Homo sapiens: one gene and its partners. The protein of the gene in region 5 purifies or fractionates together with the protein of the main gene of each other region. This does not show direct contact. Each region holds a gene or a part of one and is shown on either strand. Other genes may lie near its edges.

What was found.
Region 1: the proteins of H2AB3 (region 5) and DHRS2 purify together in Homo sapiens (affinity purification with mass spectrometry, with the first as the bait; one large-scale study listed by BioGRID). This does not show direct contact.
Region 2: the proteins of H2AB3 (region 5) and RBM19 purify together in Homo sapiens (affinity purification with mass spectrometry, with the first as the bait; one large-scale study listed by BioGRID). This does not show direct contact.
Region 3: the proteins of H2AB3 (region 5) and ZBTB11 purify together in Homo sapiens (affinity purification with mass spectrometry, with the first as the bait; one large-scale study listed by BioGRID). This does not show direct contact.
Region 4: the proteins of H2AB3 (region 5) and NLE1 purify together in Homo sapiens (affinity purification with mass spectrometry, with the first as the bait; one large-scale study listed by BioGRID). This does not show direct contact.
Region 6: the proteins of H2AB3 (region 5) and YBEY purify together in Homo sapiens (affinity purification with mass spectrometry, with the first as the bait; one large-scale study listed by BioGRID). This does not show direct contact.
Region 7: the proteins of H2AB3 (region 5) and DDX31 purify together in Homo sapiens (affinity purification with mass spectrometry, with the first as the bait; one large-scale study listed by BioGRID). This does not show direct contact.

What each region holds. Positions count from the first base shown.
Region 1 is NC_000014.9:23,642,224-23,646,592, reverse strand, and holds the end of DHRS2 (dehydrogenase/reductase SDR family member 2, mitochondrial), read right to left. Parts: exon of another isoform or gene 4,155-4,369; intron 3,442-4,154; coding exon 3,374-3,441; intron 2,483-3,373; coding exon 2,431-2,482; intron 2,185-2,430; coding exon 2,050-2,184; coding exon of another isoform or gene 2,039-2,049; intron 1,767-2,038; coding exon 1,711-1,766; intron 1,452-1,710; coding exon 1,340-1,451; coding exon of another isoform or gene 1,291-1,339; 3' UTR 954-1,290; downstream 1-953. UniProt on the Homo sapiens protein: NADPH-dependent oxidoreductase which catalyzes the reduction of dicarbonyl compounds. Displays reductase activity in vitro with 3,4-hexanedione, 2,3-heptanedione and 1-phenyl-1,2-propanedione as substrates.
Region 2 is NC_000012.12:113,955,816-113,960,296, forward strand, and holds part of RBM19 (probable RNA-binding protein 19), read right to left. Parts: intron 4,364-4,481; coding exon 4,244-4,363; intron 4,089-4,243; coding exon 4,050-4,088; intron 3,590-4,049; coding exon 3,397-3,589; intron 2,236-3,396; coding exon 1,967-2,235; intron 1-1,966. UniProt on the Homo sapiens protein: Plays a role in embryo pre-implantation development.
Region 3 is NC_000003.12:101,669,961-101,674,441, reverse strand, and holds part of ZBTB11 (zinc finger and BTB domain-containing protein 11), read left to right. Parts: intron 1-2,228; coding exon 2,229-2,464; intron 2,465-3,080; coding exon 3,081-3,312; intron 3,313-4,481. UniProt on the Homo sapiens protein: May be involved in transcriptional regulation.
Region 4 is NC_000017.11:35,135,285-35,139,765, forward strand, and holds part of NLE1 (notchless protein homolog 1), read right to left. Parts: intron 4,031-4,481; coding exon 3,951-4,030; intron 2,607-3,950; coding exon 2,530-2,606; intron 2,357-2,529; coding exon 2,259-2,356; intron 1,910-2,258; coding exon 1,717-1,909; intron 1,214-1,716; coding exon 1,078-1,213; intron 932-1,077; coding exon 885-931; intron 168-884; coding exon 1-167. UniProt on the Homo sapiens protein: Plays a role in regulating Notch activity. Plays a role in regulating the expression of CDKN1A and several members of the Wnt pathway, probably via its effects on Notch activity. Required during embryogenesis for inner mass cell survival.
Region 5 is NC_000023.11:155,458,586-155,461,826, forward strand, and holds H2AB3 (histone H2A-Bbd type 2/3), read right to left. Parts: upstream 1,421-3,241; 5' UTR 1,343-1,420; coding exon 995-1,342; 3' UTR 830-994; downstream 1-829. Other genes in the region: F8A3 (40-kDa huntingtin-associated protein), read right to left, coding at 1-15. UniProt on the Homo sapiens protein: Atypical histone H2A which can replace conventional H2A in some nucleosomes and is associated with active transcription and mRNA processing.
Region 6 is NC_000021.9:46,292,439-46,296,919, reverse strand, and holds part of YBEY (endoribonuclease YbeY), read right to left. Parts: exon of another isoform or gene 4,402-4,481; intron 759-4,401; coding exon 690-758; intron 1-689. UniProt on the Homo sapiens protein: Single strand-specific metallo-endoribonuclease involved in rRNA maturation.
Region 7 is NC_000009.12:132,659,752-132,664,232, reverse strand, and holds part of DDX31 (ATP-dependent DNA helicase DDX31), read left to right. Parts: intron 1-815; exon of another isoform or gene 816-861; intron 862-906; exon of another isoform or gene 907-1,008; coding exon of another isoform or gene 1,009-1,011; intron 1,012-1,537; coding exon 1,538-1,794; intron 1,795-1,896; coding exon 1,897-1,972; intron 1,973-2,981; coding exon 2,982-3,025; intron 3,026-3,032; exon of another isoform or gene 3,033-3,266; intron 3,267-4,452; coding exon 4,453-4,481. UniProt on the Homo sapiens protein: May have DNA helicase activity and RNA helicase activity. Probably have ssDNA and RNA dependent ATPase activity. Plays a role in ribosome biogenesis and TP53/p53 regulation through its interaction with NPM1.

The DNA of each region.
Region 1 (4,369 bases), on a different chromosome or scaffold from region 5:
TAGTTTGTTATTTATTGTAGTTTCTCCTGACTAGCATGTGAGCTCATAGGGCAGCAAATTTTGTTTTGTTCATTGCTATACCCTAAGCTCCTAGAACAGTGCCTGGCACAGAATGATAGTCAATAAATGTATCAAATGAATAAACATGTTCTGCCTCATTTTCTGATGACTATTCTACCTTCTGTTTTCCCACCACACTGAAGGAACTGGAGGGAGGTTTGGTCTTATTTACGTTTGTGTTCTCCAGGGTGCCTGGCACAATGCATAGCTTGTAGTAAGATGCACAAATGCTTTTGTAATTGAACCATTCACACCACAAGGACCCGTCCCCGGCTGGTGTGGAGAGGAGGTGTTGCTGAAGGGCTTCCATGAGACCAAGGCCGGGGGTCAGCTTGGAAGCCTTGTCTCAGTTCCTCCCTCTGGACTGGTTCAGGACAACATTTATGGGTGGCAAGAGTGGTGCTCAGGGCCACGGATGGCTCGAGGACCACTGTTCCCCCTCCACTGTGCTGAGCCTCAGTATGCATACACAGAGGGCGGTGCCCCCGAATATGACTCAGGACAATACACAGGGCCTTTTCTGAGAAAGCCATGTGTTCACCCCAAGAGGAACTTCAGCTCTGACTACTCTCCTCTAACTGGAATTATGCACAAGATTCGGTATAACTGTTTTCTCTGGGTTCTCAAAGGCCTGTGTGGCCCAGAAAACATTAAGAAGTATTAGCCTGGAGGACCCCTGGGAGAACCCCAGAATCTTTCCACTGTCACCCACCACCACCTTGCTGAGCCCCCAGCAGGCCCAGTTCAGATAATGGAGCACACACAAAGCCTTCTGCAAGGCAGCACACTCACTCCCGCCTCTGTGTGTCTGCGACGAGCTCAGGGCAGCTGGCGGTAGAGGCCTCTTCCCACCATGCTGCCCTGGGCTCTACCCTTGACAGATGCTTCCAGACTTGAGGATAAATTTGAGTTTATTTTAGGAAAAAAAATGCTTAAAGCACAAATTACAGAGAGGAGGAGCTGAAATCCTTCAAAGGCCTGAGCTTCTACTCCTTTCCCTTAAGATTCCTCCAAAGCACCAGCTCCATAAAATCCTTCAGCTCCCCAGACCCACACCAAGAACCCCACATGTTAATTGGATCAGCCAAATCTACAAGCAGATAAGTCCTAAGGAGAATGCCGAAGCGTTTTTCTTCTTCCTCAAGCCTAGCATGAGTAAGCCCCCAAATTGCTAGTCTGGCAGAATGGCAGACTCTGCCTCCAGATCCAAATGATCACCTAGACACCCCCTCAGGCTCCTGGGCCTGGGACCACAGCTACGCAGCCGCCCCCACTCCTCTCAGAGCCGAGTGGAGTAGCCTGCCACCGCAATGTTCTCCCCGTTGACGTAGCTGGCATCTGGAGAGCACAGGAAGGACACGATTCCTGCACAGTCCTCTGACTCCCCAATCCTGGATGGAAGAAGGACACAGTGTCAAGCATCTTGTACTCTGATTCTGCTGCTCTGGGGCTCACGGATGACAGGTGGGAGTGGGCTCCATGGGGAACAAGGTGGATGCAGCAGGGCTACTTGCACCCTCCAGGGCCATGTGGACTCCAGATTTCAGCAAAAACAATGGCCAGATGACAGGGAGGGGTCTGCTCTTGCAATAGACTCAACTGCCCCTGCCTAGCCACACATGGACCACCAAATCTCCAAACCCCACTTGCCTCTGCAGCTGATGATGTTCCTTGAAGTTCTTCCAGAGAGACTCATTCCCATGAAACTGGGCAAAGGGAAGAAATGAAGGAGTCAGTGCTACTAAAACAAGATGGGCAGGGCCCCGGGAAGGCCACCAGGCAGAACACCTAGGGCAGCTTTGCCCTTCTCAAAAGAAGGAGCATCTTTTCAGGATGGATGGACTGCACCATGGCTGAGTTCAGAGAACAATGAGGACCTCAGTCATAGGCATGCTGACCTAAGGATTCAGTCACCCCTTGATCCCTTATTCACTGGGAAGGGTTCCCACTGAGCCAGACTGGGAGATGGAAGACACACCCAATCCTCACCACTTTGCTGAAGTCAGTTTTGATAATTCCTGGAACCACGCAGTTTACCCGGATGTCCTTGGGGGCCAGCTCCAATGCCAGTGTTCTAGTGAGACCCAGCAGCGCTGTCTTGCTGACATTGTAGACACCCAGCGCCTGGGAAGGGAATTGACAGAGTGATTAGGATATGGGAGAGTGGGGGAAAGCATCAGTTGGATTTCTCACCTACAGGGATCTCACAGGCCCAGCAGCCCTCCCACCCACATGGAGACAAGCTCAGCCCAGGGCAGCAGGAGGATGGTGGGGGTCTGTCCCAGGCACTTTGTCTGTAAGGCTCTGAGGAAAAGAACAAAGTTGCCCCTCACCCTATACCACTCAGGAGCACAAGGACCAAGCACTTACCACTACTGGATTATAAGCTGCAATGGAAGAGACCAGGATGACAGCACCCCTCCTGAGACAAGACAAACATAAGAGAAGCTGAAGCTAAGAGCTTACCACTGATGGTGACACTATCATGAGTTCATTAAATGATGCAACCCTCACAGAAGCAACACAGGTCCTATTACTGTCCCCATCTCAGAGTTCAGAAAACTGAGGCTCAGAAAGGTTTAGTACCAGCCAATACACGGCAGAGCTAGGATTCCATGCCTATTTCTCATAAATACGATGTCCATGCTCAGAACCCTTATCTTCTGCTTCCTCTCTTGCCAGGTGCTTGAAGGAGAGGGCAGGGTGGGCTTTGTGAAGAGGCACCCAAGGCTGATGGTGAGTGCCTATCAATGAGCAACCTCTAAGGAGCAGATGGGGTAAGGGAGACCAGAAGTGACAGTCAGGAACTTTCCTTCTACTGAAGACAGCCCCTGGCCAGTTCCTAAGGGTGTGTCTGTGAGGGGTACAGTCAGATCTGCAGGACCTGGAACACAGGCAGGGTCCCTGGAGACCAAGCGCAGGCATGAGGAGAGGTCTGGGACAGGCTTTTTCCTATGGAGAGGAATGGGGCTAACCCTGTCATTGGTTTTAAGTTGGTAAGAACAGAGAGCAGGTAAGGTGACAATGACCAGCCCACAAGGTCAAGGAGTTAAAGCATAGCCTTGTCCCAAACCTGCTGATGTCAAGGCCAAGGAGGCTATGCCTGGGCCCCTGGAATACTACTCTCATCCTGCAGCCACTGGAATTGGGAATGGCAGCCACACAGATGGGGAGGCAGGACAAGAAGATGAGGGATGTGGAGATCCCAGACCTCTTCTGTCCTCTACCCACTACTGGCTGTGCTACCGACTGTATTTCTGTGCCCACCTCAGGTCCCCAACTCCGACTGGTCCCCACCCCCGCCCTGCCATACCTGTTCTCCATGTAGGGCAGCAACTGGCTCAGCAGCAGGGCTGGGGACTTCACGTTCACACTTAGGATCTGAAATCAGAGCAGAGCATGGGTGAGGGCAGAGAGACATGGTCAGCCCAAGTCCTGCTCTCATAAGACACTTGGAGCCCTGTAATTTGTGCAGTAGACCCAATGTATGTGCATATAAGAGAAACCAATCCCCCTTCTGACTGGTGCAAGAGGTATTTCCAATTTGCTAATGGTTTCATAGGCAGGCAGGCTAAGTCACAGGCCTGTGAGCAGAGCCCTGAAAATGTGAATTGTTCAGGACTGACACGAGGAAGGAAATGTTCAGGCCTTTTAAAGAAAATGGGGACTGGGGGCAGTGGGTCATGCCTGTAATCTCAGCACTTTAGGAGGCCAAGGTGGGAGGATTACTCAAGGCCAAAAGTTCAAGACCAGCCTGAGCAACATAGTGAGACCTTGTCTCTACAAGATTTTTAAATAATTGGCCTGGTGTGGTGGTGCACACCTATAATCCTAGCTACTCAGGAGGCTGAGGCAGGAGGATCCCTTAAGCCCAGGAGTTTGAAGCTGCAGTGTGCCATGATCATGCCACTGCACTCCAGCCTGGGTGACAGAGTGAGACCCTGTCTCTTAAAAAGAAAACAACAACACACTGTAAGCAGAGGCCTCTGGAGAAAGACTGAAGACAGCCTGATGGAGGGGAAGCAGGTGCTAGAAGCAAGGGAGATTTCTGGAAGAGCCTTTTTTGTCTCTCTGAGCTTTCATTTGCTTGTCCTCTTACCTTGTCCCCATAGAATTTAAGGCATACTCACAATGCAACAGCATAAAATAAATCAAATAGGTACTATGTGTGAAGAAATGGAGAAAAGGAAAAATCAGTGTAGAAAAATAAGAAAAAGCAAGAGTGAGGTTGGTGCCTACAGTTCACAGCATGTGATAAGGACTGAGCATTTATTCTATTATTTGGTCATAAAAATGCAGGCTGTAAGGG
Region 2 (4,481 bases), on a different chromosome or scaffold from region 5:
GCGTTGCAGAAATGTGACTGCGCTTGACCGTGGGGTGCTGCCTTTTATCCTGTATTTAGTAACAAGGTAGGCAGAGGGGAGTGAGCCCTGCTGGGGGTGCTGCATTCCAGAGGGTTCTCTTCCTGAAACCTGAAGATTCCAGAATTCCAGCATATACTTAGGCACGGGGTCAGAAACCGGAGGCAGGGAGCAGTGCTACCATGAGTGCCTTTTTGTAAACGAAAATTCAGAGGCTGAAGGAAGTAAAGTATCTCACCCAAGGACCAACAGCCACTAAATGATGGAACTAGGATTTGAACTCATAATTCTGACTTCCCCACACTCTACTACCTCACTGAAATATACAATTTTGGGGGGGAAGAAAAGGACAGAGTGCATAATTAGAAGAGGCAGAAAATAAAAGGAGGGAGGAAGAAGAAAGGGAAAAGAGGAAAGAAAAGAGGATGAAGCTTGCTTTCATCTCATTTGAAAATACAGGGCTGGGGCCAGGTGCAGTGGCTCAGGCCTGTAATCCCAGCAATTTGGGAGGCTGAGGTGGGTTGATCACTTGAGGCCAGGAGCTCAAGATCAGCCTGGACAATATGGTGAAACTCCATCTCTACTAAAAATACAAAAATTAGCTGGGTGTGGTGGTGTGTGCCTGTAATCCCAGCTACTCGGGAGGCTGAGGCATGAGAATCACTTGAACCCGGGAGGCAGAGGCTGCAGTGAGCTGAGATCACACCACTGCACTCCAGCCTGGGCGACAGCAAGACTGTCTCAAAAAAAAAAAAAAAAAAAAAAAATACAGGGCTAGGCAGGGAGAGAAGTGATGCTTCACAGAGAAAGGAGGGAACAGGGACCTGGACAACATGTCAAACTGCTCTGTCTCTGATGCAGAGAGGACTCCCAGGTCAGAGACGAGTTGGCCGACCTCTGGGGAAGCGCCCACGTTTATGATCTCGACTTCAGACCCCACAGACCTGGGGCTAAGTCCTGAACCCACCATTTCCCAGCCATGACCCTGGCTGAGGCACCTTCCTTCTCCAGGCCTGTTTCCTCATCTGTAAAATGGAACAAGACCAATACTGCCCTCCAGATAGTGATGAGATGCAACGGCACGGCAGGCATGGTGCCTAGTGTGTAGCGCAGGCTCAGTTGATCCTCCCTATGATTGCTGATGACTGGTCTGCACCCCTCTGCCTGTGTTGTTACTAAATACAAAGGATAAAGGCTCAAAGCCATCACTCAGCTCACTTCTGCCCCATTGGTGGGATATGGGTGTGTTGACCGGGGCTGCTCCAGTTTGCCCGGGATAGTTGTTCACTCTATCTGTAGTCATTAGACCTGCAGTAACTACATCCACAGCCTGGCACCCCACTGGACTAGCATCTCACTTTTAACTTAGTGTTGACAATAATTTAGTTGTCACCCTACTTATAGGCAATTTCTGGAAGGCAGGTGACCTCTCCAGGTTAGCAACAGAAAATAAATGCAGAGGCTGGGTGCAGTGGCTCATGCCTATAATCCCAGCACTTTGGGAGGCTGAGATGAGTGGATCACTTGAGGTCAGGAGTTTGAGACCAGCCTGGCTAACATGACAAAACCCCATTTCGACTAAAAATACAAAAAATTAGCTGGGTGTGACTATAATCCCAGCTACTCAGGAGGCTGAGGCAGAAGAATCACTTGAACCCAGGAGGCGGAGGTTGCAGTGAGCTGAGATTGCACCACCGCACTCCAGCCTGGGTGACAGAGTGAGACTCTGTCTCAAAAAATAAAATAAAATAAAATAAAAATAAAAACAGAAAAGAAACGCAGAAAGAACACACGGCGAGCAAGCGGCAGGGCCAAGATCGGGAAGGCTTTGGACTGCAGAGCTGCGTCTTTCCCCAACATTCCGCTCTCCTAACAGAGGAGCTGTGGGGACCACGGGCAAGCAGGAGAGCGCACCTCCTCCCTCATCACCTGCGGGATACACACGCACCTCGGCTCTGGCCTCCGGTGGTCTCTTTTTCCCAGCTGGCATCCCTTGCTCTTGGCCTGCACCCTTGCTGTCTCTTTCCTGCAGGACTGGGGTGGCGGAGGAATCCTCTTCCTCGGCCTCACTCCCTTCATCACAGTGCACGGCTTCATCTTCACTTTCCTCTTCCTCCGAGGAAGAGGACGACCCAGCCTTCACCATCTTGGATTTCAGGTAATCCATGTCCGACAGCTCCTTCTGCACAGCTGCCTTTGGTTCGAGGCTTGCCTCTTCTGGAAAAACAGGGAAGCTGGGATCAGCGACAGCTATGAGCAAACCAGAGGTCAGAGGTAGCAAATGGTAGATGGTCCTCCTAGTGAGAGGCCTGAGGCACCATGCCCACCGTGTCCATGGCCCCTGTGCCCAGCATCCCCCATAAGTCCTCTGATTAGCAATACCAAAACGGGGCAGGGCTACTGCAGCTTTGATATTCTCTGTGCCACACATTGAGCTCCTGGCTCCCTGCCACCAGCCATGTCTTCCTAGTCCTCTACACGGCAGCCTCTGTGACACTTTACAGAGTAGGTACAGGACGGTCAGTCTCTGCTTAATACCCTCCAGGGGTTTCTGAATGCTCAGGGTGAAATCCAGGCTCCTCATCAGGGCTGGCTGCGTGGGCTTCTTCCACTGTCTCCTCCTGCTCAAGCCATCCCAACCCACATTGAGCCCCTCAAGCCCATGCACTTTCCTTTCCTCTGTGTCTCTGCGATGCTGTTCCCTTGACTGGAACCCCTTTCCTCTCCCCTCCCCTACCGTGTCCCACTAAGTCCCCTGAGTTCCTCGGATGTGAACTTAGTGCAGAAACGTTACCAGGCATAACTGCACTAAATGTACATCTTCTCACCTTTAGACCCAAATAGATGCCCAGTTCTCCACCAAGCACGTACCCTCCTGTGTTGCAACTGTTTTCTTGCCCACCAGGCCTCCCCCACACCACAAACCCCTTCTGAGGACAAAGGCTCACTCCCTCACCTCCTCAGGGAGGCCTTCCCTCATAATTCTCCTGTCGCCTTTCCTGCTTTCTCTCTGTAGCATTCATCATCCTATGATATACCCAACAGTGGACTTATTTGCTTATTGTTTCTCTCCACAACCATAATCACAGCTCCATAGGGGAATAAACCCTTCTGTCTTTTGCTTATCAACATGGTCCCAATGCCTGAAGTATGCCTGGCAGATAATAGGTGCTCAAGAAATATTTGTTGACTGACTGACTGAATACACAACTAGGATCAGTGAAGACAGATGCACCTGCAGAGGGATCATCACCCCCAATGGAGAGCTCAAGGGCTCACCTGACTCCTAGAGTCTGCACAGAGGGGCCCCCAGTGCCGGTTAGCCCAATGGCAAGCACAGGTCCGTGCGCATGGAGCACACAGTCCCCATGCCCTCACCTTCCAGGTCCTCCCCGGCTCCCTCCTCCTCACTCTCCTGCCCAGAATCGGAGTCGAAGTTCAGGTAGTCACTGGCCGGCTTGCTCTTCCCTTTCGAGGGCTCAGCATCCAGGCCATCATTCGCCCAAGTGGCTGCCTGCGCCCGCCTCTGATGAACTGACAGAAACTCCTGGAACTCTGTATCCTCCTTCAGCTGGTGGCACCAGAACCCGGGCGGCAGGGACACGGGAAAAAGAGAGAGGAAGAGGCAGAGAAGGCTCAGGTGGGGCTTGATCTTTCTAACTCTTAAGAGGGTGAGAAGATCCCTCAAGCTAATTTCCCCCATTCTCTGGAGGACCCCGAGGTTCAGCTGGGTCAGTTCTGAGGAAGGCAGAGTTGACTCCTCACTAGACAAAACTAAGAGGACAAGAAGACAAGGCCAGGGGAGACCAGAGGCACAGCTCTGCTTGCCAGGGCCAGCCTCCATCCTCTCCAGCCTCTTCCCTCTCCCAGTGTCCACCCTCTCCAGCCTCTTCCCTTTCCTAGCCTCCACCCTCTCCAGCCTCTACGGTCTCCTAGCCTCCACCCTCTCCCAGCCTCTACCCTCTCCAGTCTCCACCCTCTTCCACCTGCTGCCCACCCTCTCTCCTCCTTGGGCAACAGGACAGACTCACCTTCTCCAGTTGACCTGCCACCTTTTTCTTCTTCTCATCCTGAAAACAGAAGGCACAGAGAGTGAGGGTCACACAGATGAAGAGAGCTGGGAAACAGAACTGCACTGACCTGGGAGGGCCCATCTTTGGGAACCAAAAGTGAGTGACTACCCTGCTGGCAGTGGGGACAGAGGCTAGAGTGACCCTTTACATACTTTCTTAATTTCTGGAGTAGTAGAGTCTTTTGGAGGCTGCTTGGGCTGGCTTGGTTTCTGGGCATGTTTGCTCCAGGCTCTGGGTTTGGCCGGGTCCCCGAATGACTTGCAGAACTCCACCTGTGTGGGAAAGAGAGTGATTTTCACACCTGCCATGGCACCCAGGCGTTGGGTGCTGCCCTTCGGCACCTGGGAGCTCGGGCATTTCAGACAACTGTCACTGCCTAGCTGAGTTTGC
Region 3 (4,481 bases), on a different chromosome or scaffold from region 5:
ACAGCGCCCGGCCAATACAACCTCTTTTGGTCTCTAAATCTACACTCATATAAATGCTTTTTTGATAAAGTTATATTTAACTCGAACCCATTGTTCCTTTCTTTCTTTTCTTCTCTTTTTTTCTTTGAGACAGAGTCTTGTTCTGTCACCCAGGCCGGAGCACAGTGGCGCGATCTCGGCTCACTGCAGCCTTCGCCTCCCAGGCTCACGTGATTCTGGTGCCTCAGCCTCCGGAGTAGCTGGGACTACAGGCGCGTGCCTCCACACCTAGCTAATTTTTGTTTTGCTCTGTTGGCCAGGCTTGTCTCGAACTTCTTACCTCAAATGATCCGCCCACCTCAGCCTCCCAAAGTGTGTGAGCCACGCCCCAAGCCCCATTGTTTATGTTCTGCAAAAAAAAAAAAAAACAGTCTCTGTGAATCCATAAATTTGACAAATTCCTAGGTTAAACAGGTTTCTTCACCGTAGAAGTCAGAGGTTCTAATAATAAATGTCAATTGCATATAGCTAAAATTTTTCTGAATTTATGACTTCAGTGTATACTTTTATAATCAGTGTGGGACATAATACAATTTGGAAAATATTGCTTGAATACTATTTGAAGATTGAAAGTATAAGGAACTTGGTGGCCAGGCAAGGTGGCTCATGCCCGTCATCCCAGCACTTTGGGAGGCCAAGGCGGGCAGATCACTTGAGGTCAGGAGTTTGAGACCAGCCTGGCAAAAATAGTGAAACCCCATCTCTACTAAAAATACAAAAAATTAGCCAGGTGTGGTGGCGGGCGCCTGTAATCCCAGCTACTCGGGAGGCTGAGGTGGGAGTATCACTTGAACCCAGGAGGCGGAGGTTGCAGTGAGCCGGGATCCCACCACTGCACTCCAGCCTGGGCAACAGAGAGAGACTCCATTTCAAAAAAAAAAAAGTGTAAGGAGCTTTGTATAATTCGACATTTTAAAACACTTTTCAGGAATATTCTCTATACCATACCTCTATCATTTTACCTCATAACCTTTTCATTTGTACTTATTTGAAGATTTGGGGGTAACTTTCTGCCCTAGGAATGGACAAGCGTGCTCTTGTGTAAGTAGAATAATATACCGAAAATCCCATGACTTCTGGAGGCCTAGCTCTGCCATTTTACTAGATGTGACTTTGGACAAGCTACATACCTCTTAGGGCTTTATTTTCCTCTTGTATAGAATGGGAATTAATTGTTCTCTTACAAGGATGATAGTGGGATGTGTGTACATATACATAAAGCCTTGTCCCTGCCTCCTCACCCCTACCCTAGCATGCTGGGAGCTGGAAGTTGAAATTCAAAATCTTTTGTGAGTGGCTTGTATATAATCAACTTTTGTTAGATTGTGTATGCTTTTATTTCACACAACCCTAAAATCTCATAACTTTCAAAAACAAAAGATTTATTTTAAACTTTCATTACAAGTTTTGTAGTAGTCCTGTTCCAGGCTACAGATTGGTTTCAGCTTTTTTCATCTGAAATTCAGGTTTAAGAACAACATCCCTCTGGGACATTGCTGTTCTTTGTGAGAGGGGACAAAGATCAGAGAACTGGTGCAAAATACTCAGTACCTCTTAAGGTTCTGTTCAGATATGGTACACATCACATGTGTGCAAATCAAATCACACGGTCAAGCCTAATGTCACTGGGGTGGAGAAGTATTAGCTTGAGCCATATTAAATTGTTAATTTGTTTGGTTTTGTTTTGAGACAGAGTCTTGGTCTGTTGCCCAGGCTGGAGTGCAGTGGCACAATCTCAGCTCACTGCAACCTCCGCCTCCCGGGTTATTAGTGAGTCTCCGGCCTCAGCCTCCAGAGTAGCTGGGATTACAGGCGTGCGCCATCATGCCCTAAATTGTTAATTTGTGTAGGTCAAAAAAAGGTGAATATTGGCAGTTTCATATAGTTCCTCTTGCATGAAAACATTGCAACTCACATGAAAATGGGTGGAGCTATATAGTCATCTTATGATTAGAGAAACAAATAACTGGGAATAAATAAAAAAAATTACCTCAGCAGGAGAACATCATTTATAACTTTATATTTTTTGGGAAAAAAGTATATTTTACATTCTAATAAACTCTACATATTTTATGGGACATGAATGTCTGCACATATGTACTGAAATGTGTTAATGTGCACAGACTAAATAATATATTCTGTTTTCAGTTAACAGTATTAAATTTGACTTGTTAATATTTTCATTGTAGGTATATTGAAGCAAGTCAAAGATTACATTAAACAGTGTAGCAAATGCCAGGAGAAACTAGATCGATCCCGTCCAATATCAGATGTTTCAGAAATGTTGGAAGAATTGGGACTAGACCTTGAATCTGGAGAAGAAAGTAATGAATCGGAAGATGACCTGAGCAACTTTACTTCATCTCCAACTACAGCATCCAAGCCTGCAAAAAAGAAGCCAGTATCCAAACATGAACTTGTGTTTGTAAGTGGTACTCTCCAGTCAGCTTTAAGATTTGTAACTAGTGTACTAGTATTTGCAGCCTTGGTGACTTATTTTTCTCAAACCACTAAGACTGCTTATTGAATAAGACAAAATGGCAGTGTACTGTGTTATATAAGCTGAACTGCCTCTTCATTTATCATAAATGTTCCTGTTATTTTTTCAGAATGAACTTAATAATTACCTGTTGGTTTGTTGTTAATTATCCTCCCTCCCTTCTTTTGTGATGATATATTGGTACAAGTAGACAGATTTACATTTCTGGAAGCAGTCTCTGAGTTTACGCCCCAAGGTAAAATTAATCTGGCCAGGTCTTTGTTTTTCACCTGCATCAGTTTCATACATCATCATATTTCTGATTAGTAAGAAGAGGCAGCCAGAAGTGAGATACAGATTTTCATTAGGTGAGGTAGAATGAACATGGCAGAAAATAGGATAGGACAACATATCTTTTTATTTAAATACATAGGTAACAAAGAAAATATCAAATTATTCATACCTGGTAAAAGGTAATATGTAATGTGTCTTGTTTTAAAGCTTGTTAAGGGTAAAAAATACAGGTAATATGTTACTCTTGCTCTCAAACTTATTTTGACAGGTTGACACCAAAGGAGTGGTAAAACGTTCTTCTCCAAAACATTGTCAGGCTGTCTTAAAACAGCTGAACGAACAGAGACTTTCCAACCAGTTCTGTGATGTTACTTTGTTAATTGAAGGAGAAGAGTACAAAGCTCATAAATCTGTTTTGTCAGCAAATAGCGAGTATTTTCGAGATCTTTTTATTGAGAAAGGAGCTGTTTCCAGTCATGAGGCTGTGGTGGATCTTTCTGGTAAGGGTTTTGTATTACTCTTGCTTTTTGTTTGTAATGACATTCTAGAAGAGGGGGATATGTATGTCTTCCACACACGGACTTTATGCCAAAGTAAGAGAAGCCCACTAACAACAGTAGACTAAGCTGTACTGAAAAGGTTCTTTTTAGCAAGATTTCTGTGGTAGAGTTATGGAAAAGGGTGTCATTTCCTTTCACTACGTCTTAAGTGAGACAATTATAGCAGAAAAAGAATTTCTAGGATTTAAACTGTTAAAAACAGTTTGAGTGAAATCCATAAGTGCAACAAAATTATTACATTAAATGAATATGTTATTTAAAAATTGATTGTTTAAGCTAGGTGTGGTGGTGCCCGCCTGTAGTCCCACCTACTTGGGAGGCTGGGATGTGAGGATCTGCTTAAGGTCAGGAGTTCCAGGCTGTGGTGTGTCATTGTACCTGTGAATACCCACTGCTCTCCAGACGGGGCAATATAACAAGACCCTGCCTCTAAAAATAAAAAGCAAATAAAAATTGACTGTTTATGTCTTATTTTGTGGGACATGTAATTATAGAGTATTTTATAAGTCTTTTGGTTTTTAAAGATTAATCCTTAGAGTTTATTAAGTTCAATAATCAAATTATCAATATAGAAAAGTCAAAATCCCAGGTTTGTTTTTTGTTTGTATCATTATTGTAAATAAATAGTTCAACTTTCTTTTGGCTTCACTAGAATTTATATATTGGCTTATGAGTCATCAAATGAAAATTTAGGAAGAATTATAGGTAGCATTATTTATACGTTTTCTCATCATATAAAACTTGCTGTAACTTTTGAATTACTTAAATCACTTTGAAATATTTTTTCCTTTTTGAAACAAAAAAGTGACTTTTCCAGGTATGTAAATTCTTAATTATTTAACCACTTATCCTTTTATGCTTTATTGTTTTTAGTCCTACCTCTTCTGGGAAGATACATTTTTCCTTAGCAGTGGCTTTATGTTTATAGAAAGCAATAATAACGGCCAGGCGCAGTGGCTCCTGCCTGTAATCCCAGCACTTTGGGAGGCTGAGGCAGGCGGATCACCTGAGGTCATGGGTTTGAGACCAGCCTGATCAACATGGAGAAACCCTGTCTCTACTAAAAATGCAAAATTAGTTGGGCACGGTGGCGCATGCCTGTAATCCCA
Region 4 (4,481 bases), on a different chromosome or scaffold from region 5:
TCAAAGGAGGCACTAGCCACGATGCGGGAGTCAGGAGAGAAGAGCACCTGGTTGATGAGAGCTTGGTGTCCTGTCATCCGAGTGAGAGGCTTTTTGTCCTCTGCTGGGGACCACAGGAATAAGGTGAAGTCGTCGGAGCCAGACACCAGCCTCTCTGGACCCTGGCCCTAGGGGAGGCAGAAAGCACACTGTGTTGGGTGTGGTCTCAGAAAGAAGGAGGAGGGCCCGACTTTGGCAGCAAGCATACACCCTGATTACTCAATGCCAGGGACAGAGAGAGGCCAGCGCTAGGAGCAATGAGGACTGGCTTGGCCACTCACTCGCATGTGACCCCAGGCAAGTCACTTCATCCAAAAGGAAAAAGAAACTCTACATGCATGTAGAAAAAAATTTTAAGATACATAATTACAGAAAAAGGCACAAAATAATGTGTTAAAAGAAGGATTTTATGTATGTATGCATGTGTGTGTGTGCTTATACATATATACTGTATATAGACACGTGTCTGTATATTAAATCTCTGGAAGGTGATTCAGGATACTGGTGGCACTGGATGCTACAATAGAGACGGGAGACTCCGCGATCTACCTTTTGTATTTTTTGAACGTGAATGTGTGAACAATCTTAAACAACAAATTAAAGTAAAAAAGAAGCATGTTGGAAATGTAATAAATAGACAAGCAAATAAACTAAACAAAAAACGAAATAAAATGATCTCTAGCACATTAGTATTTTAGGATTGCAAACTAGGATTATGAAGAACAACTTTTTGGAATAGGTACATTCTGAGCTGGGTCTAGAAGGGAGAAGGGTCTGAGAGGGTTTTAGTGATTGGCTAAGGACTGGTACAGAGCTAGGGGTGCACGTGGCTGGCACACACTCACCCGCACGAGGTTGTATCGGCTCAGAGCCCTCTCCTTCAACTCCTGCACTGTGACCAGGTACCGGAGGGGAGAAAAGGAGATGAGGAAGAAGGCCGATAAGAAAATCCAACACAAAGAGCAAACACTCCCCATTAAGCTTGAGAACTGGCTCCTTCCCAATCAGCCCCCGCTCTTCCTTCTCCCAATCACTCACAGGATCCTTGGAGGTCTTGGGGATTAACTGAGGCCTCAGCAGGTTCAAAGGCCCCAGTGCGCAGGGCATAGTCAGTGCTGAGGGCCATGGTGTTCACCCAGTGGCCGTGGCCTTGCAGAGTCCGGCACAGCACACCCTACGGGAGAGCGAGTCAGGTCAGACACACACACTCCTCCCCACGCCTGGGCGATTAGCCCCAGGAGACAGGTGGTACAAGACTAATAATCATCATCACTCATGCATTGTGATCTTAATCAAACTACCCCTCTGGGGTCAAGTCTCTCCCCACTTGTAAAATGGAGTCCAGATCATGAAAATGTTTCATGGAAGAGGAGTTAGGGATGTCAGAGTAAACGGCTCCTGTCCAATACATTTGGGATATGGTAGATCTGATAAAGCCCAACAGCTGTCCTACAGGAGGAATTTCCAGAGTGTGACGATCTCATGGGGACTCTGCAATCTCCACTATGGTGCAGCACCAACCACAGAACTCCTCATTCCCAAAACACCTCCCTAGACCAGGGCTCCCAGCACACATCTGGGAAACACTGGACTCGCTGATGTCAAGGTCATTCTGAGTGCCAGCATCTTGTGACTTGCGATTTTCTGGACTGGTTTCTGAACCCTCCCAGCACTTACGTCATGAGCTCTCCAGACTTTGATGGTGCGGTCCTGGGAGGCAGAGTAGAGAAGCCCGTCCCCTCCCCACCGGAGACAGGTGACCGACTGGGTGTGCCCGGTGAGGATGCGCTCACAGCGGCCTGCAGTTGTGTCCCAGATCCGCACACTGCCATCCTTGGAGCTGCTGGCCACATAGCGGCACTCAGGGTTCCTGGAGAGAAGGGAGATGTGACCTCATCTGTGACCTGGCAACATCTGTGTGCCCATGGCACCTCCCCATTCCCAACTTAAAGGCCATGGACAATCTTTTGACAGCTTTTCTGACACCAAGACCCGGCTGCACTGCAAGGTGACTGCAACCAGCAGACCCTGTGATGAGAGCCTCTCCCAAGCAGCAATGCAGGTCTGCCCGAGACCCTTCTCCCATGCCTGCCAAGCCATCACGGTCATTCAGGCTGCCCATCTTGTCCCCTCACGTAAAACTTCTATGCATTGGGCAGGGAAAGGGGATGGCTTTGATCCCCTGGCTCATTTGTCCCAGCTCCGTCAGTGTCACTTACGCATGGAGGGGCTCCCAGCTCAGGCCTGTGATCCACTTGCTGTGGCCAGCGAGGGTCCTGCCCACCTGCTTCCCTGTGCTTGGGTCCCAGAGGAGAATCTGAAGGACAGAAGCTCACTGAATAATCCTCCCCAACAGGTCTCTGGCTCCACCAAAATCCCTGCCTACCACTTCCCACCCAACCCTCCCCAAAGACTCCTGAACCTGATTCTGAACTGTCTCCTAGGAAGGCCCCCTTGAGTCTCTGCCTAGTTACCCTGAGAACTACCTACCTGGCCATTCTTGCAGCCTGAGGCCAGCTTCCTGCCATCTGGAGACCAGGATATACTAAGGACCCAGTGTCTGTGTCCTAAGAAAGCAGAGGAGGGAGAAATAAGGGACTACATCTGTCTTTATCCCAAGTGCCCAGCAGTGCCTGTCAGGTGCCAGGTACTCCTTAACCATTTGAATAAATGAATGATTGAACAAAAGGAGCGATGAGGCTTTCTGGGGATGGATAGAATGCACCCCAAGTGTTAGAGCTCTGCATCTTGCTGCATGGATAACACCATCACTCTCTAATGACTCCTTATGTGACACATGCTATGAAGTGTTTTTGTACATGTCATCCCTTGTTATTTCTCACAAGAGCTCTAAGCTATGGAGCAAAGCAAGAATTATCATCCCCATTTTCCAGATGAGAAAATTGAAGCTTAGAAAGGGAACATGCCCTACACACACAAGGTCACTTAACTAATCTGTGGTATAGCAGTGGTTCTTCAAGTGTGGTCGTCAGAGCAGCAGCATCAGCATCTCCTGGGAACTTGTTAGAAATGCAGATTCCCAGGCCCTACCCCAGGCCCAATAGAACTAAACCTCTGGGGGTGGGGCCCAGCAATCTGTATTTTTTTCTCTCTTCTCTTTTCTCTCTCTCTCTTTCTTTCATGGAGTCACACTCCATCACCCAGGCTGGAGTGCAGTGGTGCCATCTCGGCTCACTGCAACCTCCGCCTCCTAGATTCGAGCAATTCTTCTGCCTCAGCCTCCCCAGTGGCTGGGATTACAAGCACACGCCACCATGCCCGGCTAATTTTTGTAGTTTTAGTAGAGATGGGGTTTCACTGTGTTGGCGAGGCTGGTCTCAAACTCCTGACCTCAAGTGATCTGCCTGCCTTGGCCTCCCGAAGTGCTGGGATTACAGGTGTGGGCCACCACGCCTGGCCAGCAATCTGCATTTTAACAAGCCCCTGAGGCGGGGCAATTCTGATTTGTGCTCAAGTTTGAAAACCACTGTGGCAGAGGCAGGATTTAAACCAGGTTCTCCTTGGTAGCAGTCAGTCAGCCTCTCACCATGTCCCATATTGACTCCTTGGTGCAGTTTCTGCTTGTGTCTAAGTGGCTGGCTGGGCTCAAGGACATGGTCTCTACCTAGGAACAGACAGCCGCCAACTGGATATTAAGGGGTTGTAATCTGCAAAGTGAGACCCTCATCTGTATGAAAACAAAAAACGAGCCAGGTGTGATGGCAAGTGCCTGTCATCCCAGCTACTCTGGAGGCTGAAGTAGGGGGACTGCTTGAACCCAGGAGTTCAAGGCTTGAGCCCAGGAGTTCAAGTGAGCTGTGACTGCACCACTGTACTCCATCCTGGTCAACAGAGCAAGACCTTGTCTCAAAAAAAAAGAAGACCCCCTAAATGGCTAATTGCATACTGACCCTTGCATGTGAAATGTGGTGTCTCTGTGCTGAGATCCCAGAAGCGCACGGTGGTGTCTCCAGAGCCACTGGCCAGGTACCTGGGGAAGAAGAGAGGATGCTTGACACTGCACATGTGCATTTGTGCCACCTATTCAATCACTTTCTGTGAATAGAATATGGAACTGGACTCTTTCCTCGCCCCTGGAAGGGAGAAAGACAATACTGATGCTGTCCTCTGGGAGAATACATCAGGAGGCCATTTCTTTCCTCTCCACAGCTATAACCAGCTTTTGAAGCTTCTCATTACCTTTCTAAGTTTGAGAGAAGCAACTAATCCCAGTTTCACAGATGAAAAATTAACTCGGAAAGGTTAAGTGATTTATACAAGTCACACAGCTCAGATCTTGAAAAATCAAGTCTAGGAGAGGTTTGTCCAAGGCAGGGGTCCTTAAGCAGCCTTTGGGGACCATGCCCTACTGAGGAAGTCCCTTAATTGCAAGCTGAGTCCAGAGCTTGGGTCTATGGTAGGCAGCCCTGAGGCCCCATCAA
Region 5 (3,241 bases):
AGCCGCTGCCGCCATGCTCGCCGCCCCAAGCACTTCCCGACGCGCCGCCGCAGCTGGCGGGCGGGCCGGGGCGGGGCGACGTGCCCTGCGTCCCCCTCGGCGGGCTGCCGCCGTGCCCGCGCCGGCTCCCCAGCCCGAGCCTGCCCCTTGCCCTGGTGAGGTGCAAAGAGCGGGATCGGAGGCGGGGCCTGGCCGGGCTGTGAGCGGCGTATGCAAATCGAGGGTCTCGGGGATGCGGATCCAAGACCCTGGGAAGGTACGCGGGGCCTGGCGGGGCACCAGCTGCTGCTAGCTCGGCTGCAATGCAAGTGGTCTAGGTTGCTAAAGGCATCCCACAGCCTCTCCATCTGAACATGACCCAAAGGAAACTCGTGACCCTAATTCCATGTCTGCGCATTTCTGGACTGTTGTCCCCCCCCCCCCCCCCGCCCCGACTACTCAGTCCTCCGTCTTCCGGTCCAGGGCCCCTTGCCAAGCACCGGGTCCACCTCTCCGTCCCCACCCCGGTTGCCTTAGAAGTCCGTCCTGTCGCAACACTGCAGTCATGGTCTTGAGGCCCACCCGCCCCAACGAACACCATCATGCTGAGGACTTTCCCGGGCAGGCCCTGACTTGCTCAGAACCAGCGGGGGTGTCCCCTTCCCACCCAGGGCCACTCCCCTGCACTGTCACCCGGAGAGACGGCTCCTCTGTGCCATCCCTGGCTCCCACCCAACCCCAGACCCCCACCACCTCTCCATCCCTCCAGCTGTGGAGGTCTCACAACCCCCCAACCCATCTCACCGCCCCCCCACCCCCACCCCAAGGCAAAGTGACTGAAGCGGGCAGATGGCTTCCTTGAAACATTTTATTGACAGAATTAATGAAGGCCCAAGACTTTGGGGCCTGGGTTGTGGGGGGAGGGTGTTTAAGGCCGGGGGTTCAGGCCGGGGGATTTGGGGCCGGGTGGGTGGACGAGTGGACCTGTCAGGTCCCAGGGGCCGGGTGTCAGAAGCTAGTCCTCGCCAGGGGCCACTTGAGAGATGGTGGTCGTGTTGAAAAGGGTGCTCAGTAGCCTGTCGTTGTGAACCACCATGTCCAGCAGCAGGGGAGTGATGTTCCGCTCTCCGCTGTTCTGGGCCTCGTTGCCCGCCAGCTCCAGGACCTTGGCCGTCAGGTACTCAATAACCGCAGCGAGGTAGACCGGCGCCGTGCGACTCAGGCGCTGAGCGTAGTGGCCCTCCCGTAGACTGCGCTCCACCTGGCTCACTGAAAACGAAAGCTCCGCTCGGACGGTGCGAGAGCAGGTCCGCCCCCGGCCGCCAGCACCGGAGGACCCTCGGCGTCTCCTCCTCCTCGGCATGCTGGGCGTTGAGTGTGCTATCTCGGCTTGGCCCAGCTAGGCAAGATGGCTCTCAAGAGGACAGTTACCGCGTCCAGTACTGTGTATCCTAGCGACCAGGGCCCAGCCCCTCATTGGCTAGGGAGCCGAGACCAATGGGCACGCACATCCGGCGACGGGCACGCATGTGGTGACGGCCCCTCACAAGGGACACACGTCCGTCAGGTGACCTCATCACTTTCCCATTGGCCTCGAGGGAGCAGGCCTGGGCCTAGAAGTGGCTGGAGGGCCGTGGGGGTGGGGTGGGGCGGGGCAGGGGGAATCGCGCTGGTGACCCTCTCTTTGCCAGTGGGAACTTTCCCTTTCTACTGGATGGGAACACCGTGGGAAAGACAAAGGGGTGGGCGAGGGGAGGACGGGTACCACGCCTTCACAATGTTGCACATCCATCACGACCACCTAGTTCCAAAACGTTTTCAACACCCCGAAAAGAAACCGAAACCCCTGTACCTATAAGCAGTCACTTGCCGCACGCCTCCTTCCACACCACCACTACCAGCCCCCACACCCTCCCACACACACCCCCTGCCCCCGCCCATACACACGTTCCCGATAGTCCCTGGCAACCCCTAGTCCATCTGCTTTCTGTCCATAGAGGTTAGCCTGTTCTGGAGATTTCCTATAGATGGAATTATACGACCAAATGTGAGGCCGTGTGTGTCTGGCTGCTTTCACTTAGCGTAATGGTTTCATCAGGGTGCATCCATGTAGAGGCATGAATCACTACTTCCTTCCTTTGAATGACTGAGTACGATTCTGTTGTATGAATAGGAGGCCACATTTTGTTTACCCACTCGTCAGTTGATGGACAGGTTATTTCCCCCTTCTGGCTATTGTGAGTGGCACTGCCATGACCATCTCTCTACAGGTTTTTCTTTGAATATCTCTTTTCAGTTCTTTTGGGTCTATTTCTAGCAGTCAAACTGCTGGCTCGTGTGGTAATTCTGTTTAACTTATTGAGGAACCACCAAACTGATTTCCACAGCAGCTGTAATCTTTCGCATTCCCAACAGTAGTGCATGAGAGTCCCAATTTCTTCACAGCCTCATCAAAACCTGTTTTCTGTTTGCCTCATTTTGTTTTGTTTACAGTAGCCATCCTACTGGGTGTCAAGTGCTATCTCATGGTGGTTTTCATTCGTATTTCCCAAATGGCTAATGATGTTGCTGTGGTTTGAGTGCATCCCCCAAATTGTGTGTCTTGGAAACTTAATCCCCAAATTCACATGTTGATTGGAGGCGCAGCCTCTGAGACGGTAATTAGGATTAGATAAGGTCATCGGGGTGAGACCCCCAGGATGCGACTGGTGGCTTTATAAGAATAGGAAGAGAGGCCTGAAACGACATACACGCTCTTGCCCTCTCGCCGTGTGATACCCTCTGCCGTCCCCAGATGCCGGGTCACTTCCCAGTCCCCAGAACGGTAAGAAATAAATTTCTTTTCTTTATAAATTGTTCAGTGTCGGGTATTCAATTATGGCAACAGAAAACAGACTAAGACATCTTTTCATGTGCTTCTTGGCCCTCTGTACCTCTGCTTTGGAGGAATGTCTATTCAAGCCCTTTGCCCATTTTTTAATTCGGTTGATTGTATTTTGGCTGTGGGCTTCTAAAACTTATTCATATATTCTGGAAAATAGACTCTTATCAGATATGTGACTTGCAAATGTTTCTCCCATTCACTTTCTGGATAGAGCCCTTTGTTGCCCAAAAGATTTACATTTGGATGTAGTCCAACTTGCCAAATGAAAAGATATCTGTGGCTTTGCCTTTGGTGTCATACTGAAGGAGCTGTTGCCTAATCCAAGGTCGTGCAAAGTTACATCTCCGTTTTCTTCTTAGAGTTTTATAGTTTCAGCCC
Region 6 (4,481 bases), on a different chromosome or scaffold from region 5:
TGGGTTCAAGCGATTCTCCTGCCTCAGCCTCCTGAGTAGCTGGGATTACAGGCATGCACCACCAGGCCCAGCTAATTTTGTATTTTTAGTAGAGACAGGGTTTCTCCATGTTGGCCAGGCTGGTCGCGAACTCCCAACCTCAGTTGATCCGCCTGCCTCGGCCTCCCAAAGTGCTGGGATTACAGGCGTGAGCCACTGCGCCCGGCCAAACTTTTTCTTTTTTTAATGAAAAAGGTTTTTCATGACTTTCAGAGAAGCAGTTTGCTCCCAACACGGGCTTGCGTGCGTGTTAACCATGTGGACCGGAGCCCACGTGGGCCTCCGTAGGCGGAGCGCATGGGTCTGGAGGAAACCAACCCGGAACTCACTCCACGCAGAGCTCCCGCCTCCGCCCTGGGTCTGGCCTAGTCTCTAGCTGATTGGACCTTTTTGACCAAGCGCCACGTGCTAGTGTCAGCTGTGGCTCTCGGCCTCTGCACTCAGACCGCTTTCCTTAGTGAACACATTCAGCTGGAAGTATTTGGGGAGCCCGGTGTTGAAAGCAAACATCTGTGTCATTTTTACAAGGGCAGGTCTGAGGTCCAGTTCCTGCGGGGGCGGTCAAGATGGAGGGTGGGGGCTGGCAGGGGCCTGGGGGAGCCTCCTTCCCCCACGCACCCCCTCGGTAGTGGGATGGATGGGCTCCTTACCTGCTGCCACTCTGCCTCCGTGCCGTGTGTGAATCCCAGCAAGTGACAGAGTCCGTGGGTGGCCGTCACCTGTCAGAATAATTTTAAACCGGCTCAGAGGATGACCCCACAGGAACCTGCCCCTTCAGGGCCACCCCAGGGCCACAGGCTGCTCTTGGTATGTGGCTGCAGGACCCCAGGGTTGCTGTGAGACCCCTGGGCAGGAATTACAGGCACTCAGCTTCAGTTCCCTTCCATCTAAAATGGAAAGCAAGCAAGCCCCTTTGAGAGTCTTTAGTCAACGTGGATTGCTGTCTGGGCCAGCACTGTGCTGGGGAGGGGCCCCCAGGATGGAACTGCCCAGCCGCAGGAGCAATGGGCAAGGGGGGATGGAATATGAAGAAGTGGGGAGGGGTGGGTGCCACGGGGTGGTGGGGCAGTGGGGCACCGGCCAGGGGTGGCCTCCCTGCCCTAAGAGGGACGAGGCAAGCGCACAGCCCACACCCCAGGTCCAACCCCCAGTCAGGATGGGGCCTCCGGTGGCCCCTGATTTTACTGAACACTCTGGGTAGAGCTTTGGGGCACAGGCAGCACAGGGAGTGCGGGAGAGGTATGAAGGCGGAGGCGGAGGGAGGTGCAGCTGCTGGTGAGTCAGGAAGACCCACAGTCGCCATGTCCCCCTGGAGAGAGGGCTGGATTAAAGCCCACAGGGGAGGGGCACCCGGATGGAGCCCAGAGCTGGGGGAAGAGGAGGAGGAGGAGGAAGAGGAGGGAGGGCCTGTGGACCCTGAGCAGGCACAGCACCAAGGGGGTTTATGGAGCCACATGGGCCATAGGGGTAGCACTCCCCTGGGGTTTGGGTGGAGGGAAGAGGGAGGTCTGGGAGGTGGGTATCCTTGGGGCTGGCGGGAGGTGCCTGGAGACATGGAGGACAAGGCAGGGTAGATGGAGAGTGCAGCTGAGAGCCAGCCCTGAGCAGAGCTGGCCTGGCCTGTGGCTATGAGGATGGGGTCCTGGGCTGGTGGGCTGGCCCTCCCCTCAGGGTAATAGGGAGCCCCAAGGAGAGGGCTCTGGGCCCGAGGAAGAAATGCCAGGGGAAGACCAGGGAACAGAATCTTAGGTTTGGGGAAAATGGAAGCAGATGTCCACATACCCCCCCGCCCACAGTTGCTGGCCACAGAGATCCCAGGGCTGAATCTCCGGCTGGGCCACTTCCTGTCACTCTCAGAAACTCCCTCTTCCCCAGCAGGGTGTGCATGGCGGGCAAGTCCCACCCAGGTCTGGAGGGAGCAGTTGGGGCCCAGGTTCCTGTGTGGCCGTCCCATCCTTTCACACTGGGTCTGGCTGGGAAGCTCTGCCTCAAGCCACACAGATGCACTTGGATCCACAAGGGCGATTCAGGGCATGGCTGTGCAGCCAAAGGAGGCCAAGTTAAGTATGATTCACTCATACATGGCTTTTCAGAATGCTTTTCCTTTTTTTTTTTTTTTTTTGGCATCAAGCTGCTGAAACCACCTGTGCAAAAATGATAACAGTGAGAGAGGTCTGGGGTGGCTGACTCCACTGAGTCCCGGGCACGGGTCAGGCTAACCGCGGGAGGAATTTAATCTAGAGTCTAACTTGCGTGGCTGTCCCCACTGAGTCCCGGGCACGGGTCAGGCTAACCGCGGGAGGAATTTAATCTAGAGTTTAACTTGTGTGGCTGACTCCACTGAGTCCCGGGCACGGGTCAGGCTAACCGCGGGAGGAATTTAATCTAGAGTCTAACTTGCGTGGCTGTCCCCACTGAGTCCCGGGCACGGGTCAGGCTAACCGCGGGAGGAATTTAATCTAGAGTTTAACTTGTGTGGCTGTCCCCACTGAGTCCCGGGCACGGGTCAGGCTAACCGCGGGAGGAATTTAATCTAGAGTTTAACTTGCGTGGCTGACTCCACTGAGTCCCGGGCACGGGTCAGGCTAACCGCGGGAGGAATTTAATCTAGAGTCTAACTTGCGTGGCTGACTCCACTGAGTCCCGGGCACGGGTCAGGCTAACCGCGGGAGGAATTTAATCTAGAGTTTAACTTGTGTGGCTGACTCCACTGAGTCCCGGGCACAGGTCAGGCTAACCGCGGGAGGAATTTAATCTAGAGTTTAACTTGTGTGGCTGACTCCACTGAGTCCCGGGCACGGGTCAGGCTAACCGCGGGAGGAATTTAATCTAGAGTCTAACTTGTGTGGCTGACTCCACTGAGTCCCGGGCACGGGTCAGGCTAACCGCGGGAGGAATTTAATCTAGAGTCTAACTTGCGTGGCTGACTCCACTGAGTCCCGGGCACGGGTCAGGCTAACCGCGGGAGGAATTTAATCTAGAGTCTAACTTGTGTGGCTGTCCCCACTGAGTCCCGGGCACGGGTCAGGCTAACCGCGGGAGGAATTTAATCTAGAGTCTAACTTGCGTGGCTGTCCCCACTGAGTCCCGGGCATGGGTCAGGCTAACCGCGGGAGGAATTTAATCTAGAGTCTAACTTGCGTGGCTGACTCCACTGAGTCCCGGGCACGGGTCAGGCTAACCGCGGGAGGAATTTAATCTAGAGTCTAACTTGCGTGGCTGTCCCCACTGAGTCCCGGGCACGGGTCAGGCTAACCGCGGGAGGAATTTAATCTAGAGTCTAACTTGCGTGGCTGACTCCACTGAGTCCCGGGCACGGGTCAGGCTAACCGCGGGAGGAATTTAATCTAGAGTCTAACTTGTGTGGCTGTCCCCACTGAGTCCCGGGCACGGGTCAGGCTAACCGCGGGAGGAATTTAATCTAGAGTCTAACTTGTGTGGCTGACTCCACTGAGTCCCGGGCACGGGTCAGGCTAACCGCGGGAGGAATTTAATCTAGAGTCTAACTTGCGTGGCTGACTCCACTGAGTCCCGGGCACGGGTCAGGCTAACCGCGGGAGGAATTTAATCTAGAGTTTAACTTGTGTGGCTGTCCCCACTGAGTCCCGGGCACGGGTCAGGCTAACCGCGGGAGGAATTTAATCTAGAGTTTAACTTGCGTGGCTGTCCCCACTGAGTCCCGGGCACGGGTCAGGCTAACCGCGGGAGGAATTTAATCTAGAGTTTAACTTGTGTGGCTGACTCCACTGAGTCCCGGGCACGGGTCAGGCTAACCGCGGGAGGAATTTAATCTAGAGTTTAACTTGCGTGGCTGTCCCCACTGAGTCCCGGGCACAGGTCAGGCTAACCGCGGGAGGAATTTAATCTAGAGTTTAACTTGTGTGGCTGTCCCCACTGAGTCCCGGGCACGGGTCAGGCTAACCGCGGGAGGAATTTAATCTAGAGTCTAACTTGTGTGGCTGTCCCCACTGAGTCCCGGGCACGGGTCAGGCTAACCGCGGGAGGAATTTAATCTAGAGTTTAACTTGCGTGGCTGACTCCACTGAGTCCCGGGCACGGGTCAGGCTAACCGCGGGAGGAATTTAATCTAGAGTTTAACTTGTGTGGCTGACTCCACTGAGTCCCGGGCACGGGTCAGGCTAACCGCGGGAGGAATTTAATCTAGAGTCTAACTTGCGTGGCTGTCCCCACTGAGTCCCGGGCACGGGTCAGGCTAACCGCGGGAGGAATTTAATCTAGAGTTTAACTTGCGTGGCTGTCCCCACTGAGTCCCGGGCACGGGTCAGGCTAACCGCGGGAGGAATTTAATCTAGAGTTTAACTTGCGTGGCTGTCCCCACTCAGTCCCGGGCACAGGCCAAGCTAACCACGGGAGGAATTTAATCTAGAGTTTAACTTTAAATCAAGAATAGTAATCATCCCTCCCTAAAACGAATCCCCTCC
Region 7 (4,481 bases), on a different chromosome or scaffold from region 5:
TGTTATGTGTTAAGAGGAAGTAAGCTTGTTCTGTGTTGCTGCAGAAAGTATACCTCAGACTATTAGGTAGATGTTCAAGGATGCAGATCTTGCATAAATGTCAGAGACAGCTTCCTGATTCCTAGAATGGGTCATGAACAGAATGGGCTGCCTCATGGGATGCAGGAGGTGTGCAGGGAGAGGCTGCCAGTCCACCTGCCCGGGACTGTCAGGAAGTCCATGTATGGCGGGAGTGGCCTTTAAGAGTTTTTGTGCTCCAGGAGTCCTGGGTCTGTAAATCAGGTGAAGTCTGCACATTTCATACTGTCTTGCAAATGATTCAACAAACCTGAAACTTGATTTCATCTCTTTCTTTAATCTGAAAATTCATAAACTTGAGATTTTGTAAAAAATAAATTTGTAAGATGGAATATGTCCGTTTTTACTTTATTAATATTAGATATTTGAAGTTGTATTTAATTACTTAGGTAAAAGAATCCTTAGGGAACAAAGAACTGTTGTTATTGGTAGGTTAGTCTGAAGCTGACAGTCATGGCTAAAGAAAGCCGACATGTAAAACCAAGTCATTATTTCAAGCAAAGAGGAAAATAACATATTCTGAGAGAACCCAAAACTCCAGAATAACAAGCACTGGCTACTCAAGGGATGCTTTTATATTCATTTGTAAATCAGAAAAGAAGGCCAAAGAAAATAGAGGAATTGGATGTTCCTTCTCCTAGGGGAAGTTTGGACATCATGCATTTAAGCACATTCCTGTAATGGAAATAAGAAGCAACAGGCAAGAGATCCCTAGTGCTGTGTAGCCTGTAATCCGCAATCAGGCAGAGACTCGGGGACTCAGAGACTCGAAAGGCAAGGGAGGTAGGAAGTAATTGTGGTAGAGGTGATGGATGGAGCAGCATTCTCATTTGGAATGGGAACAGGGCGTAGGAATTTTCTCCAGGCCGTCTGAATCTGGAGGAGCAGCTTGAGAGGAGAGAATGAGAGAGATCCAGGCGCTAGGGTAGAATGGTAATGAATGTTTCCGCTTCCTGGGCACGGGCTGAGATGCGCATTCCCCCTCGCCCCTCTCTCCTGTGCGGTCTCCAGTGTGCTTTGTTGGTGGAGAGAAAAGATTCGTTTTCCCCCACCCCTCTTTTCTCCTTGGGTGAATGGGTTCCTAGGAATATGGATTGACACACCCTTCACAAGGTGGATTCTTGCTTCCCTTAAAACAGACTCCATTAGTTAACATTCAACTGGAAAAATGCTGCTTCTTCATCCTTACCTTATCTTGATTGATTTAACAGTTAAGAATGGCTGGTGAGGTCTGGTAGATGAGTGAGCTGAGACTTTTTTCTTTTTTCTTTTCTTTACCTTTTGGAAGAAGCTGAGTCAAAGAGTCTGATTGCAAACCCTAAACTGTTGCTTGACATATGGGGCATAATGATCTCTGCAGGGAGAGATGCAATTCTGTGGGCAGTCAGGCTTCACTCCGAGCTCTGTTTTCATGGACTAATGCATCTCTTGTTGATCTTTCCTTCTGGGAACAACGCAGCAAGCAAAGGCTACGAAAAGAAAATACCAAGCGTCCAGTGAGGCTCCCCCAGCGAAACGGAGGAACGAAACTTCATTTCTCCCAGCCAAGAAAACTAGTGTTAAAGAAACTCAGAGGACTTTTAAGGGGAACGCACAAAAAATGTTTTCTCCAAAGAAGCATTCGGTTAGCACAAGTGATAGAAACCAGGAGGAGAGACAGTGCATTAAGACTTCATCACTGTTTAAAAACAACCCTGACATTCCAGAACTCCACAGGTATGTCCAGGGGCGGATGCCCTTCAGGAAGAAAAAAATGTGTTCTGCCTTTTCTTTGTTAATATTGGCACTGATGCCTGGGTTCTTGTTCATCATTTGCAGACCTGTGGTAAAGCAGGTGCAAGAAAAAGTGTTTACTTCAGCTGCTTTTCATGAGCTGGGCCTCCACCCACATTTAGTAAGTACCTTTCAGTGTTTTCTGGGTCAGTTTTTTTTGGTGTGTTTGTCCGTTCAGAAGGTCTGTGAAATGGCCGCTCTAGGAGGAGAGATCAGAGAGTGTTTGTTTCTGCTCTAAGTTACCTGAATGAACTCAGATTGATATGATACTCTTCTAGGACAGTTCAAGGGTGCTTAGGTTACTGTTCACTGTTTTCTGGCCCCCCCTTCCCCCATCCTCTGTTTTTTTGTGTTTTTGTGTGTGTGTTTTTTTAAGTATTGAAGACTTTCCTCGACTAACGTGATTTAGGGTCAGGACATCACTTGCTAAACTTAAAACAGCTCCCTATTTACTGGATAGTTGTAGTGGTGAAGCCATTTGTGGTGGCAGATGTCACAGTGGCCATAGGAGAGGGAACTGTGCTGGCATCTTGCTGTTAAAGGACGTCCACAGTTTTAGAGAAGTAAGGGAAGAAGAGTATTTTGGTGTGTGTTCTACAAACAAATGGACACTTTAAAGGAAAAAAAGTGAGTTCTCCAGACTCATGAGTAAGAAGAAAAAAATATATTAACTTTTAGGCAGGCTTGGTTTCCTCTGCACTTTCGGTTACAGCTTACTACCCCTTCTGTAGGGTGGGTTACCTAAACTTGTTTTCTCACCTGGGGGGTGGATCAGGGTTTCTCAGCCTTGGTGCTGTGGACATTTTGGACTAGGTCAGTCTTAGTTTTGGGGACTGTCCTGTGCACTGTAGGATGTTCAGCAGCATCCCAGGCCTCTACCCACTAGATGCCAGCAGTGCCCCCCTCCCCTGGTTATAACAAGCACAAATTTTTCCAGACTTTGCCCTGTGTCCCCAGGGAGTTAGGGCGGGTGGCAGAATCGCCCCAAGTAGAGAGCACCACCTGGGTGGAGGAACTTAATTTGATCATAGTAGTCAATGTTCTCTCAATAGTTTCTCCTTTCTTGTGTAATTTCCGTTAAATATTTTGTATCAAAATATTAATTAAAGCTTTTTCATCTCCTCTTTTAGATTTCCACAATAAATACGGTCTTAAAAATGTCTAGTATGACCAGGTAAGAACTTCAGGCTCCTCTTGATTTCTTAGGCATTACGTGGGTATAACCGGACGAAACCTGTGTGTGCAAGGCAGAGCAAATTTGTGTCTTGGCGTTGGAACACAGTGCCAGGTTATCGACCATAAAGGGTTGTCGTCTCACTTAGCTACTCATTCTCTCCACCTGTTAAATGGAAAGACTGGCTTTCCATCCAGTTCTGCCCTTGGCTCTGAACCGCAAGAGACGTCTCATCCAGAAGGTGGGCTGCATGAGCGCCGCTGTTTTCTGTGCTTCCCTGAAAAGAATTTGGCCAAAATATAGCATGTGACCATGTCGTTTCTTAGTAGTAAGAATTAGGGTCAACCAAAAAGACAAGAGTAAATGTTCAGTTGGATAGAGTGGGATACTGAAAAAATGTTTTCAATGTTTGTTACAGGGAATGACTCCTGGAAAATAAAGAAGTAAAATAGGTGCGAGGAGATGAGCTTCCTTGTTTTGAGTATTTGTGCTTCTGTGCATTTTCATAATGATTTTTTACTTTTACTAGTAAAAATTAATAGGAATATTAAAGTCCAAATTAAGGGACCTCCCCACAAGTTTTTTATCAACCAAATTTAAGTGATTTTTGTGTCTCTTTTGTTTCTTGTTTTAAAATACATGTGTAGACACACATTTCAGCATGTCCATAACCTTTTCCTGGAGAATGGACAGCTGCTGCTGGCTCTCTGAATAGTTGGCGAGCTTCCTCCTGCTATCCTGCATGGAAACCTTTCCATTATGTTTCGTTGTGTTTCATATTCCTGTTAGTGAGGGCAAGAGTGTGTGATACACTTGGTGGTAACTCTGATTTGTTGTCATGCCTGTTTCTTTTTCTTTTTTTTTTTTTTTTTGAGACGGAGTTTTGCTCTTGTTGCCCAGGCTGGAGTGCAGTGGTGCGATCTTGGCTCACTACAATCTCTGCCTCCCAGGTTCAAGCGATTCTCCTGCCTCAACCTCCTGAGTAGCTGGGATTACAAGTGCGTGCCATCACTCCCAGCTAATTTTTTGTATTTTTAGTAGAGATGGGGTTTCATCATGTTGGCCAGGCTGGTCAAACTCCTTACCTCAGGTGATCCACCCACCTCAGCTTCCCAAAGTGCAGGGATTACAGGTGTGAGCCACTGCAGTCGGCTGCCTGTCCCATTTTTAAAAGAATTAGTTTAATAGAATGGCCAGTCTCTGGTTTGCCTCACCATTTTCAGGCTAAGTTCTAAAAATATAACTAGGGTTTGATCTTTATAATCATCAAAAGTTTCTTCACACCTTTATTTGAATGCTTTGATAGCTTCTAAGGAGGCAGTTGCCAGATGAATCCAAGTGTGGGCAGTTGCCTTTTATGTATCCTGCGTCTCTGCCAGTAACTGGGTAATATAGGTAAAGTGTGTTCTTTTTTTCGGGTGGCCCAGTGTTCAGAAGCAAAGTATTCCTGTGTTGC